Linked DNA regions of Homo sapiens. The protein of the gene in region 1 interacts with the protein of each later gene in a pairwise test. Each region holds a gene or a part of one and is shown in the gene's direction. Other genes may lie near its edges.

Evidence for each region. The genes of interacting proteins can lie anywhere in the genome.
Region 2: the proteins of PLAGL2 (region 1) and RHOBTB3 interact in binary tests that used the Homo sapiens proteins (3 or more experiments, as listed by UniProt).

What each region holds. Positions count from the first base shown.
Region 1 is NC_000020.11:32,204,729-32,211,764, reverse strand, and holds the start of PLAGL2 (zinc finger protein PLAGL2), read left to right. Parts: upstream 1-4,021; 5' UTR 4,022-4,124; intron 4,125-5,201; exon of another isoform or gene 5,202-5,469; intron 5,470-6,561; exon of another isoform or gene 6,562-6,671; intron 6,672-6,682; exon of another isoform or gene 6,683-7,036. Other genes in the region: POFUT1 (GDP-fucose protein O-fucosyltransferase 1 isoform 1 precursor), read right to left, coding at 1,573-1,694, 3,700-3,823. UniProt on the Homo sapiens protein: Shows weak transcriptional activatory activity.
Region 2 is NC_000005.10:95,726,772-95,734,341, forward strand, and holds the start of RHOBTB3 (rho-related BTB domain-containing protein 3), read left to right. Parts: upstream 1-4,564; 5' UTR 4,565-4,911; coding exon 4,912-4,913; intron 4,914-4,921; exon of another isoform or gene 4,922-5,087; coding exon 5,088-5,313; exon of another isoform or gene 5,314-5,331; intron 5,332-7,570. UniProt on the Homo sapiens protein: Rab9-regulated ATPase required for endosome to Golgi transport. Involved in transport vesicle docking at the Golgi complex, possibly by participating in release M6PRBP1/TIP47 from vesicles to permit their efficient docking and fusion at the Golgi.

The sequences.
Region 1 (7,036 bases):
TTTGGAGGTCACTGGTGACCTCAGTGAGAATGCTAACAGTGGCGAAGAAGAGCCTTGTTGGAGCAGGTTAGTAAGCCACAGAAAGCAAGGAAGTGGGGACTTGGAAAGACAACTGGCTGAGAAGGCAAGGAGACAGAGGCAAGCAAGCCAGAGGGAGATGGATGGGCAATGTCTACACTGTAATAGTGAGTGCGAGGCCAGGCGCAGTGGCTTATGCCTATAATCCCAGCACTTTGGGAGGCCAAGGCAGGCACATCATGAGGTCAAGAGATTGACACCATCCTGGCCAACATGGTGAAACCCTGTCTCTACTAAAAATACAAAAATTAGCTGGGCGTGGTGGTGCGCCTGTAGTCCCAGTTAATCAGGAGGCTGAGGCAGGAGAATCGCTTGAACCCGGGAGGCAGAAGTTGCAGTGAGCTGAGATCGTGCCACTGCACTCCAGCCTGGCAAGAGAGCAAGACTCCATCTCAAAAAAAAAAAAATAGTGAGTGCGAAATTATCAGAACATCAATGGTTTCCATTAACTGAGGACTCTAGGATCTGTACGTTGATAAGCTCAGTTGATTCTAAGAGGGAGGCGGCATATGACAACACTGAAGGCGTGTTACTGCCACTGACACATTCAGTCCTTACCACAAGAGGGTAACAAGAATCATTACCAGCTTATTTTTAAAATGAGGACACTGAGGCACAAAGAGGTAAAGTACCCTGTCCAGGCCATGCAACTAGTAAGAACCCAAGTCAGACTATGATCTCTGGTACTCTGGCTTTTGACTGCTGCTCAAAACCTCTGTAAATACTGGCATGCAAAGGAAAAAGTAAAATCTATGCAGAGAAAAGGTTGTAAGAATGAAATTAAGTGTTTTGTTCACACTAAGTATTATTTCTGATGTCTATTGGAAAATTATTAAGTCAATTCATCAAATACTAATTAAGTTCCTACTGCCAGGCTCCGGGAGATACAATATGAACAACGACACAAGGTCACTGGAAGACACAAAGAATAAGCAAGGAACTGGGGGCCGGTGAGCATCGCATGACAAGGGAGCCCCTTGATGGGGTGAGAGGCAGCACTGAAGCCAGACTACCTGGGTTGTGGCCTTGGACATGTCATTAAATAACCTGTGCCTGCATGTCTCCTTTAAAATTGATAATAGCATCTGCCACCCTTGGCCAATGGAATGCACAGAGGGTAGGACCAATCAGGGAAGGAAATGGAGGCTTTAGGTTCAAGTCACAGGCTCTGGAGTCAGACAAAGATAGCTTTGAATTCCAGCTCTCCTACTCACAGGCTGTGTGATCTTGGGCAAGTTACCTAACCTCTGTAAACCCCGGTTTCCTCACAGGCAAGTGATGAGGGTGAAATGAGCTAATTCTCATGCAGCCGCACACAACAGGTGCTGGATAAATAAATGTTAGGCATTGTTATTGCAGTGAAGACAGTTCTGGCTGGAGGTAGGGAAATCTCAGAGGAGTGGGAGGTAAAGCCCAGAGGACTTGAGGGTTAAGTGTAAGTAAGCAAGACTGAGAAAGGGCGGAGAAAGGCCAAGGTCAGTGGGAAGTACTCACGTTGGTGAAAGGAGGCTTGTGATGCTGGTACTCAATCCAAGGAGGGACAGCCAAGGTACGGTTTAGCAGCTTTGCAAATGCCAGAGAGCCCAAGAAGTGATCGGCCTGGTTCCCAAAGCGCCCTGGAAATGGTACATTGCGGGTGAGGTGAGGCCTGGGGCATGGAGGGCATAGAGCATGCAGGGCTCAGAAAGGTTGTGGAGCCAGGGGTAGAAAGTCAGGGATACCAAGGAGAACTAGGGGAGCTGGCAGCATAAGAACAAGTCTGGACTCTTGGGTCTGATATCCAAGGCTCTTCAGGTCCTGCAACAACTGCTTCCGCCACTCCAGGTTTCTTGCTGTTTCCCCAACATGCTCTACAATTCCCATCCCCACCCAATGCCTCTGATCTTGCTGTCCCTCAGCCAGAAGAGCTTCTACCTCTATCTCCATTCACCTGCACATGGACGGGCAACTCGAATGCCTCATTCACTGGGCTCCTTTCACCAATCCCCTGCCATACTCACTCTCCCTCCTTTACCTCCCACCTTGGCTCTGAGCTACTTCAGTTCTTCAATTTTCCTCAAGTATCTTTGCTCACTTCCTGGCCTTCGTACTGGCTGATTCCTCAGCCTGTGAATGCCTCAGAAGCAAGGACCCTGTGTGATTCCTTTTCTTAATCCCAGCATGGCACCTGTTCATTCATTTCACAAATATGATTGAGAGGCCACAATGTGCCAGACTCTGTGCTAGGTGCTGGGATACAGGAATGAACAAGAAGGACAAGGCCTCTGCCCCTAAGGCACTCACAGTTCACTGCAGAGACACTAAACATGTAAACAAATACATGAAAAATGTTGATAATTGCCAGAAAGAGATGAAAAAAGTTTGGTGATAGGGTAATGAGGAGATTACTTGGGTAGAGGTCAGTGAAATCCTTTCTGGTGACATTTAGGCTGAGATCTAAAGGATGGGAAACAGCTGGTCAGGCAGAAATGGAGGAGAGGATTCCAGGCATAGGGACCGCCACCTGCAGCAGTGCAGACTGGAAGACCTGAGCATGTGTGAGGAACGCAAAGGAGTTAAGTGTGGCTGCAGCTGGAGGATCAGCAGAGAAGGGAGTTGTGGAGATGGCCAGTGGAGGCCACATCATTCAGGGCCCTGAAAGTCATGGTCAGGAGTCTGGAAGCCACTGGGGGCCTTAAGATCATCCACTTCCACAATGATGATCCACCATACCCATTTCAACTGTGCACCTGGCATGGTCTTTAGATTCTCCCCTACCCTGCTCTCTTTATTTTCCCTTAGTATTCATCATCCTCTATGAAACTATGTATTTATTGTTTTATGTTTACCCCTTTTTGGGTTTGCTTGTTTCGAGACAGGGTCTCACTCTGTCACCCAGGCTGGCAGTGCGGTGGCACGATCAGAGCTCACTGCAGCCTCGAATTCCTCGGCTCAAGAGATCCTCCCACCTCAGCCTCCCAAGTAGCCGCCCAGATAACTCCCAAGGGACTACAAGCACACGATACCACGCTCTGCTTTTTTTTTTTTTTTTTTTTTTTGAGATTGGATTTTCACTATGTTGCCTAGGCTGATCTCGAGCTCCTGGCTTCAAGTGATCCTGCCTCGGTCTCTCAAAGTGGTGGGATTACAGAAGTGAGCCACCGCGCCTGGCCTACTTATTCTCAATTGTTTGTCTTCCCCAACTAAAATGAAGGCTCTACAAGGACACGGAGTTTATCTTATTCACTGCGGTATTCCCAGTACAGAGAACAGGGCCCGGCACAGAATAGGTGCCCCATAAATATTTGCTGAATCAATGAAAAATCACCAGGAGCCAGCGTGGGTCAGTGACATCAAGTCCTGCCCCACTAACTCCATTTACTGGACCCTGGACTGGCTTAGACCTCAAGCAAGTCACGTAACCTCTCCCAGCCTCAGTTTTCTCATCTGTCAAATGGAAAGTTGGACACGTTGGCCCCTCTGTGCCCTTGCAACTAAGGCAGAGAGGAGAAGAGCATGCCCCGTCCCGCTCTGAGGTTCTCTCCTGGACCTGTGAAGGTGTCTCTGGGCGCATCTGAGGAGTGGCTTTTCCTCTCCCGGCCTCAGTTTCTCCATCTGAGCAGAGGGCTTGGGAGGCCTTACCCATGCAGGGGCAGTAGAGCAGGTAACCGGCCGGGTCCCAGGAGCCCGCAGGCATCCCCGGGAGCGGCAGAAGCAGCAGCAGGAAAGACACGCTCAGCGGCCGTGCCCACGCGGCGGCGCCCATGTCGGCCCGGGAACCCGAGCCAGCCGCGGCGCACAGTCGGGGAGGGAAGGAGGGACGCGAGCGCCCGCCCCGCTCCCAGCGGTCCCTGCGCGCCGCCCGCGCACCGCCCCGGCCGCTCTAGCCCGCGGGCGGGCGGGACCATAGAGATCCCGCGGCACCGCCCCCTCCACGACCCGAGCGCCCGCTCGCGCGGCTCCCACAATGCACCGCACAATGGCCCGACCGCCGCCACTACCGGGGCCTGAGGGGGCCTGGCGGAGCCCGAGCGCGGCCCGGCCCGCAGCGTGGGGCCCCGAGCGCGGTGAGTGCCGGCGAGGGCCCCAGGGGACGGCGGGGAGAGGGGCGGGAGGCCGTCTCGCTGCGTCCGCGCGCCCTGTACCCGGAGCGGCGGCGCGCCTCATCTCGGGCCCCTCAGCGCGGTCGCCCACACCCCCGACCCGGGGCCCGGTCTGCGCCAACCCGGCCCCAGATAGGCCCTGGGGTGACGAAAACTCTCCCTGGACCCCATACCTGTGTCTGGGGGACCCGAGGAAGCCACCGGTCCCCTCCCTTCCGAGACCTGGAGACGCAGTCCTGAGGGTCCCCCATTCCCGACCCCTAGGCTCCCTGGAGACCCAGATAAGGCGCTGCTGACCTTACCAGGGACCCGGGTCTGGGGGACGCAGATAAGCTGCACCTGCTCCCTCCCTCCGACACGCCTACCCAGACCCACATAACCCCCTTTCCTGCTCCAGATAGCCCGCTCTGTACCCTGTTTCATTTTCCAGACTTACATAACTCCCTTTGAGGCTTCCCTCAAATATCTGGGTCTGGAGAAGTCGAATAAGCCCCACCTGTAGTTCCCTCCTCAGTGGCCATACTCCCAGGCTTTCGACATCTTCCATCCCGTTACCCATTTTGAGACCCTCTTGAAATTCAGAGGATACACTTCTGACTATCCCCATCCCCCCAGCCTTCCAGCCCTTATAATCCCCCATTTCATTCTTGTGGGGATCCCTTAGAGACCCAGGAAAGTTGCTCATGATTCCTTCCCATCCTCGCTCTTCCTTCCCATCCCAGAGACTCCCTCCAGACTTCTCCCTGGATTTCCTTTGCTTCTCCAGCCCTCATCCACTCCCATCTCTCCCAGGCTCGGGGAATTGAACCTTTCCCACACCACAGTGGGGTGATCTAAAAGTTGGCCTGGGACCAGGCTGTGGCCCACCTTGGTGGGGAGAAAGGGGCCTGTTAGGTGGAGGATATGGGGACACCTGTGTGGGGGAATCGGTGCTTTCACCTGCAAGCTTAGCCTGTCTCCTGGCTTGTGTGTTTTTCCACCTGTCAGCCATGGGACTGTGTGTAGAGTCTGGTCTTGGGTTTCTAACCTTTCTCTCCTAAGGTGAGGCCACCAGATTGGGAGCGGGGGTGTCGAATCACGTTTTCTCCCCATGAAAATGGGGTTGTGATGAGTTGCAGCCATTTGTTCAAGGCCTCCCCAGGAGTGGGAGGCAGCAGGAATCTGAGGAAATAGTGAATCAAAGAGACTCCAAAGAGGGCCCATCTACACTGACAGAAGAATTAGCAGCCTGAGAGTAAATCCAACCCCTGTTAATCCTGTTTGATGTTTCTTGGAATGGTGCAAGTCATTGAGACTCTCCAGCCTCCCTGTAATTTAATTCTCCCACCACTCTGGAGTGGGCGGGGGGGAAGGGGGCGACAGCATTCCCATTTCCCCTCTTCTCACTGTTTTCCAGCCAACCAGTGTGTTTTAGGATTTGTTTCTGGTTCTGAGATCAGGATCTGTTTTTTGTTTTGTTTTGTTTTGTTTTTTCTTTCCTCTAAGTCTATTTATAATTTCCCAGTTGCTATTTTGGGTTCTGCTTAAGGGAAGATTCTATCCCAAGGAACGTTCTGGGTCTATTTCCTCCGGCAGGTGTTGAATTGAGTTCTTCAGATCCCCAAGTAACTCTTGGGCAGGAGGATAAAAGCTATTTTAGGGTAGTCACTGAAGTGGAGCTGTTAATCCTCTGTGGGTCTCTTTAGTTAAGAACACTCAAAGATTAACCCTTTCCTTGTGCAGGGGTGTTATCTCTCAACTGTTTTTTAGGGGGGAGTGAGGAGAATTTGAGTGTGGCAGCAGAAGGTGGAAACATGCAACTCAATACAAAGACAAAGATAATAGCTCTCTTTTGTTGGGTACTTCTAGCAGGCCAAGCTCTGTGCTGAGCCCTTTGCATACCTCACTAAAATAATCCTTACAGCAAGCCTGTGAGGTAAGTATTTTTAGCTTTACAGATGAGGAAACAGGCTAATAATGGAGAAAGAACGCAGTTTCTATAGAGATGATGTAACACCATAAAAACTATAGTTTCATCAGAGAGCAGCAGGCATCATGGCCCATAACAGGGGACGGACAGACTGGGGAGAAATATGTCTCAGTTTCAGCTTTCAAAGAGGACCATACAGAGTTTTTAGCAAGCATTCCTGTTTGGGATATGGAGCCCTAATAATACAAGAGAGTATAGGAAAGTGGCTCTCTGCTTAAGAGAGAACTCTGGCCCAGGAGATGGTGCCTGGAGGGAGGTAAAGTAAGGGGCTCTTTAAAGGGGATGTGCCGAGGGTTAGTTGTGAGGGAAAAGGGGAAGACTGCATTCTGGGGGAGATGTTGGGAAAGGAAGGAAACTCACTCTGAGGCCTGAGAAGTAACATTAAAGAGGAAAAAAAGAAGTACTATTCAGGCCTCATGCGGAAAAAGAGGCAGACACAGCCGAGACCTCAGAGAAGGCACTGCATGTATTCAGAGCACACATTTTGTATCAGCCACTTTCAAGAGTATTATTTCATTTAATCCTCTATACGAATCTTACAGGTAAGGAAAATAAATCCGTATTTTAGAAATTGAGGAAACTGAGGTTCAGAGAAATAAAGTAACCTGCCTATGGTTTCCCAGCCAGTAAGTGGCAGCTCTTCTGATAGCAAGTCCAAGGTTCTTTCCCCTTTCAGATCAGGCACTAGAAAGAATCTTAGGCTGAAAATATACTGAGTTGTGCCAGTAACTGGGAAGGATTGTGTTTGTTTTATGGAAACAGGTTCTGTCAGCTTCTCTATAGTCTATAGTTGTTAAGATTAAAATGTGAGACCAGAAGAGCAGCTTTGAAAGAGAAGTAGAATTCTTTCACAGTTTTGCTGAGGAAGGACAAGTCTGAAGGAACAGGCCTTCTGCTTATGTAAGAC
Region 2 (7,570 bases), on another chromosome or scaffold:
GAAACAGAAACTGCAACATGTGGCAATATATTGAAAGTGAACAAAGGAGGCAGCCCTCCCGCTGCCCCTCACTGTGTATCCTATTGCTGCCATGCCCCCAACACTCCTTGTATCTGCCCACTTACTGGTCAACCTGGGGTACCAGCATCAATCCCAACATTAACTAGTAGTAAAGCTTAATTTCGTTTCCCCCCTTTTTTTTTTCAGTAAAAAATAATGTGTGTGATTAGAAGTTTATTCTGGAATTTCAGGGATCATCTTCTGTACCCCACCTTGAAGACTCTGGCTCTAGATAAGTAGTCTTAAAAATTGCGTTTGTTTTTAACCTTAGAAAACCCATCTTTTTAATGAAAATGAATATGAAACTTTAATATTTTTTTAAAAGACAGCAATAAGACTGCTCTGATTGGCTTTAAGATGCCTTTGTCAGAGTTCAGATCTCACTGCTTACTCTTTTTCTGCCACCTCCTCAAGCTGATTTGAAGATTCTTCTATGCAAACCTAGTTTTCCTTAAAACATAGTTGGAAAAAATCTTCTGCCAAGCCGAGATCTCTAGGCCTGCCCTCACCAATGCTTACTTCCTCTCCAGCTGTTAAGGAACCAACACGTTTTTCAAAAACTGGTATATGAATATTCACAATTTGGGGACTAGTAATAGCCCACTGAATTACTTTACATGTCCTTACTGTACTTTATGCTACATCTTATTTAGGGATAAAAACATCTAATAGAGTAAATATGAAATGGTGGCATTTCAGCCACTAAAATAGGAAAAAAATATTGTTTGGGTTGGAAGCCCTTCCTGTGTGTTCCCCAGTGACCTTGAGGTTGGAGGACATGTGATATCTGTTCTGTTAACACTGGTAAAATAAAATTTTTTAAATGTGCTGATGAGAGAAACTGCAAATACATAAACCAAATAAAAATTTAAAATACAAGGGAAATAACTTTAAAAAAGTGGTCATAAGAAAATTATGAAAAGATCTTTAGGATATCAGGAAATGGACCATCTGTGATATTCTTTTAGCCAAGATAAATAACACTAACTGCTGTAATAATTGACCTCAAAATGTCTGGCTCAACTCACTGAATATCTATTTATCACTCAAATCACAGTACAATGCATTCTGTGAGGAGGCTCTGCTGTAACTAGTCATTCAAGGACTGGTTCCACACTGCAGTGCTAATAGCTTCAAACACCTGGCTTCAAGGTTGACCTGACTTCATGTGGTTGAGACAGGAAGATAAAAGAGAATGGAGAGACACACTTCTCTACTGCTCAGCAGGGATCATATTCCGTTGATGAGAACTAATCATGTGGCCCTACCTATATGCACAAAAGTTGAGAAACGTCATTTAGCTATCTTGGAAGAGAAAACAGGTTTGGTGAGTATGTAGCCAGGCTTTGTACCAGATACTCAATTTGTAGCTTAAGTATCACCAGGTATGACTCCAGAAATCTCTTGGGAAGCCTCCACCACTCTTTTTTCTGCCTGCTTTAATATAGAAACCTTCATGCCAGCACTAACTTCATCTCTTGCTGTTCCTAAGACAAGCCATGATCTTCCATTTCTTTATACCTTTGCATGTGATGTCTGTCCAGTTCTTTGAAATACTCCTTCCCTTCTAACCTCCTCTTCTTCCAAATCTAACAAATTCTTAATCTATTAAGACCTAAGACAATGTTTACTTTCTTTATGAACTTCTGACACAGAAAGCACAGATCTCTTCCTAACATTCACTGAACTTATCTTTTACTTTGTACCTATCTCTTTTACTGACTGCCTTTGTACCTATCTCTTTTACTGACTGCCTAGGCCTAGGTCTAGGAACTAGAATGTTTTCAAAAGGATTGAGTGTGCTAATATTCACAAACTAATTAATATGTCAGAGGGGTCTGAACCAGAATGACTCCATCTTGAGTAGAGGCTGGGTACACTAAGGCTGAAACCTACTGGGCTGCATTCCTAGGAGGTTAGGCATTCTTAGCCACAGGATGAGATAGGAGGTCAGCACAGGATACAGGTCACAAAGACCTTGCTGATAAAACAGAATGCCGTAAAGAAGCCGGCCAAAACCCACCAAAACCAAGATGGTGGTGACAGTGACCTCTGGTCAACCTCACTGCTCATTATATGCTAATTATAATGCACTAGCATGCTAAAAGACACTCCACCAGCACAATGAGTCTACAAATGTCACGGCAATGTCAGGAAGTTACCCTATATGGTCTAAAAAGCAGAGGAACTCTCAGTTCTGGGAAATGCCCACCCTTTCCAGAAAAACTCATGAATAATCCACCCCTTGTTTAGCATATAATCAAGAAATAACTATAAGTATACTCAGTCGAGCAGCCCATGACACTGCTCTGCCTATGGAGTAGCCATTATTTTATTCCTTTACTTTCTTAATAAACTGGCTTTCACTTTATGGACTTGCCCTGAATTCTTCGCTGGAGGTCCAAGAACTCTCTTTTGGAGTCAGGATTGGGACCCCTTTCTGGTAACAAATTGCTTTAGCTTCTTAAGGTCAATGACCAAGTCTTATGTACCTTGGGATCTCCTATGCCTACCCAGCACAGGCTTGGCTCACCTATTGAGTAACTAAGGAAAAAATGAATACTTTCTCCCTTTCTGACACTTCCAAGTTGTCAGCAACTTTGGTGTCTATTTTTGTTTCATTTTTGTATTAATATTTTTATATTGTCATAAAATATAACAATAGTTACCATGTTAATCATGTTCTAGTGTTCAGTACACGCTCTAGTGTTTAGTTAACAATGTTCTAGCGTTCAGTTCTATAGTTCAGTATAGTACGAACTATATATGCACCTCATGCAACAGATCTCTGTAACTTTTTCTTCCTGCAAACCTGAAACACTATACCTGTTGAACAACGCCCCCTTTTCCCCTCTCCCCAGCCCCTGGTAACCATGATTCTACTTTCTGTTTCTAAGAGTTTGACTACTTTAGATACTTCATATAAATGGAATCACTTTTTGTGATTTGCAACTGGCTGATTCCACTTAGCACAAGGTCCTCAAGGTTCATCCATGTTGTAGTTTATGAAGGAATTTTCTTCTTTTTTAAACGCTAATCATCCATTACATGTGTATACCACATTTTCTTTATCCATTCATCCATTCTAGTGTCTTTGTTTTTGACTTATGGGTTTCCGGAAAAGACTGATGAGAAAATATATTTTCTATTAACCCAAGAGAAAAAGTGATCTTGCATGCTGGAATTTTTAAGGATGGTTTAGGTTCTAGAGACTCAAAGAGAAATCGTAGAAAATGCAAAGGGAAATTAGATTAAAAAAAAAAACAGTGACCACATAAAGAATATCTCCCATTATATCCTCTCTGAGCACGAGAAACTATTAAACTACTTTCAACCGAGCAATAAGGGCCCATAATAAAAAGCTGTTGCCCTAGTTTTTTTACTGCCCTACTCAATACCCCCTCTTTCATACCCTCAAAATAGCTCAGCTGAGAAAAGAAACAGTCCAATTTTACAGAAGGGAAAAATAAACAGATAAAAGGATAAGCAAGAACTCTTTTCAACACAGAGTAAGGTACTGGTTAGAATTTTAATACTGTATGGAGGAGTCTAACCCCAGAGTAATCCCTGGCCCATTTTGGTGTTAGTAAGTGGATCCCAGTGTTCGTTTGTATCGAGGTAGTTTGAAGCACGTTAGGGATATTCATAGCCTTTACTTCAGTGCATTATTATGAAAGAATCTAAAGTATCTTTGCATTTACGTGATTATGTTTTCAGTTGGTCTGCGGAGCTATTATTAAATATGTGGCCATAACGTGTACAGAAAAATCTCCAAGTAAACTGGCATTTAACTTACCAACACGTTAAACCCCCATACATAACTTCCTTTAAAAACGATCACACTAAAAATCCCAGCATTTAAAATCCTGAAGTTTTCGGTAAAATACGCTAAATATAGCTTGAAATAGTAAATAATCCCCCCAAGGCGACATTAGCAAATTAATTGGTGTGTGAACAAAGAACTCTTTCTGCAGCAGCATGAATGTTGCCTTTATTTTTTCTCACAAGTATGATTTTAGAAAACAGCTGTAGCGCATGTTGACAAATGAGAAAGCGGCAGACGTGGTAAAGCACTTTCGGTCAAGGCCAAGAGGGGGGGAAATCGGGTTGCTGGGGCGGCACTCGGGCTGGAATCCCTAGCTTCCCTAACCTCCTTTTTCCAGTCCGGAGTGAGCGGGGGCCCCATCGCCCCACCCCCCTTTCCTGGCTCTGGTTACGGCCTTGCGAGTTGAACAAACTTGCTGCAGGCGGATTGGCGGCTGGGAGCTCTCGGGCTGGGGCGTTGTATTTATTAATTTATATTCCGCGGCGCCCCGCGCGGGCGGCTCCTTTGTGTCCAGCCGCCGCCACCGGAGCTCCCGGGGCCTCCGCGGGGAGCGCGTCCCCCGCATCCGCCCGACCCCCGGGGCTGGCACGTGCTGCGCCCGGTCCGCTGAGGGGGCGGAGGCCCCGATCTCCCCGACCCCCCTTCTCTGCTTAGAGGAGGAGGAGCAGCGGCAGCGGCAGCAGGAGGCGACAGCTGCCAGCCGAGGAGGCGCGGCGGAGAGGGGACTGCGGTCAGCTGCGTCCACTTGGGGCTGTGCGGCGGTCCCGCGCCCGGCGATGTTCCCGGGCACTCCCTGAGTAGCGGCAGCTTATCCCCCGCCCGCTAGCCCGCCCTGGTCCCCGGCTCGCTCGCTGGCTGGCGCGGCCCCGGCCCCGCTCTGCGTCGGCCCCGCCGCGGTGGAGGCGCGCGAGGGGGACGCGGCCGGGGATGAGCGGATTGCGGGTGAACTCGCCGCCCGGGGGCCCCGCGAAGCCGTGAGCCGCTGCTTTTCTCCGAGTCGCCGCCCTGCCCTTGGATTTGAGATCATGTACGTACGCGCCGCCGTCCTGCCATTGTCTCTCTCCAGCGCGTGCCGTGCGCCCCAGGGACAGGGGCTGGTGCCCATCCTCGCCGCGCGCTGTCCCCCGCACTTCCTGTTCCGAGGAGAGACCCGCGCGCTGACCGTGCTTCCCTTCTCCCCTCGCCCCCTCTGTCCGTGCAGGTCCATCCACATCGTGGCGCTGGGGAACGAGGGGGACACATTCCACCAGGACAACCGGCCGTCGGGGCTTATCCGCACTTACCTGGGGAGAAGCCCTCTGGTCTCCGGGGACGAGAGCAGCTTGTTGCTGAACGCGGCCAGCACGGTCGCGCGTCCGGTGTTCACCGAGTATCAGGCCAGTGCGTTTGGGAATGTCAAGCTGGTGGTCCACGACTGTCCCGTCTGGGTAAGGAAGAGCAGCTGCTCCGCGCTGAGGCTGAAGAAGCTTTTCTTTCCTTTTTTTTCCCCCTCCCCCTTCTGCCCACTTCCGTGAGTGTGGAGTGTCCGCGTTACATGGGTCAAATTTTTAAACATTTTTGAGAAAATCTTTGGTCCTTTGTTTCACTGGGCAGGGAACAGCCCTGTCAGAGAACACTCTTAGGAAGATAGAAGGCCCCAGTGGGAATGTGGAGCACTTACTGGTACACTTCACGACTGTGGGTTGACCCTTGGTAGGCAGCAGACAGTTGAATGTGCCAACTCCAAGGGACGGGGTCACTAAGTTTCATCAGCAAAAAGCAGTGTTTTTTTATGTCTACCCTATGGGTGATAGTGTAATATTGGTGTTCTAAAAATACATCCCTCTCAAAGCTCAACACAGGCAAAAATACTTTTCACTGGGACAGTTCAGAAATAGTTCCTCTGGAAAGCGGAGGAAAAGACAGGGACTGGGAGTTAATTTTAAATGACTCATTTATAGCACTATTAATTGATCTCTGAAAACTTAATTTTAATAATGCAAATACTCTTTATGTGTTAGCCATTTGTCTTAGTGACTCATAAATCAGAAATAACATTACTAATGTTGTTTGGAAAACTTTTAAAAAATTAAAATTTGTAATAATTGAACAAAATAGTAGTGAAGTGGATAAATTATAGTCCGATTCTTGAGTGTTTGATTAAGGGAGAAAGGAACTTACTTTCTGACACATATAAATATTTTCAGCATACAATAACATTATGTTTGAATGTTTTCCTTTAGTCTTATTTGAAAATCTTTGATTCTTTACTGATATTGGAGTTACGTATGTTTCAGCTAAATGTTACATTTAATAACAGAAGAAAGTTTAGTGCCTGAAAAGATACAAATTATCGTTGTGTAAGATTTCACATTTAAACAGCAATATTAAAAAAACTGAATTAGGACTATAGGAAAGTATCACGCCATTCTAAAAAATGTGTAGAATATACTTGGAAAAATTTCTTATGCAAAGTTCCACATAACAGAACGAAAAGATCACTCGCTCGTGTAAGTTTTCAGTTAAAGAAGAAAGTTATGTTAATTTGGTAAAATAAAAAACAGGCCTTTTCAATTAAGAGATACTATTAAACCCCTAGTTATGATAGTGATGATGCTGTTCATAAGAAGTATTGATGGAGAACTTACTGGTCAGAGTCTATGCAGGCAAATGAAACACTTCTTTTACTTGGGATCTTTCGTTGTGAAAGATCTTACAGCCTAAAAACATGACGGTTCAACATGCAGTTGAATAAATGTTTAGCGAATCGAGTAAATGTAGGGAAAATAAAACTAGCTACATTAGGATGTTAGGATTGCTTTCCCGTATTTAATTTGAGCTGTTAACACTTTCCTGTTTATACTGTTAATTTTGCAAACAGTAATGCTTGTGATCCCATACACTTTGTCTAGTAAAATGAAATCTTCCAAATGGAGAAAATAAACCTCTATAGTACGGATTTTTGCCATATGCTGGTTGTTATGGTTTATCTTGCTAATAACTTTTTGTTTGGTTAGACTCTGGCCCTATTTAAGGCACCAAGTTTGTAACCAGGTACAATTTTCTAGGTTATAATGATCTTCAGATATGAGATTCCATTTCTAGAGTTGCTCTTTATAAGGTGCTTTTCTTCACTTGGTGGTAAGTAAAGCCCATCAGAGATTCTAAAGCTGATTGCATTAATCAACTGTTATTTGACGTATGTACGGAACCAGAATATTAAATATAGCAGAGCAGATAGAGCATAGCCTTTGATATCAAAAGGATCTGATTTCAGATTCCCACATTGCCATTTCAGGTCTGTGTGTCCTTGTTAAATCACTTACCTTCTCTCAGCCTTATTTTCCCTATCTATAAAATAATATGCCTCCTAAAGCTGTGCTGAGAAGTGAATGAGAAACTAGCACGTGTCAAGTTCTAAGTATAGAGGCTGGCATTTAGTAGATGCTCTATAAGTGGTAGCTAATATAAAAATAAAGTGTTACAACTTTAGTTATGTATCACTTATATTAATACTAAGCAAAAGTAAGATTTTCACAGGTCATTCAAGATTTATACAACTACAGTACCAGTACACTGGGGCAGCGATGTTCATACTTCATACATGCAGCCCCACAATCAAGTAAAATAAAATAGTTTCACTGTAGAAATTCAGATTTTTTTTTTTAAAAGATGAGTTCAATTCTCCAAATGTGGCTCCAAGCC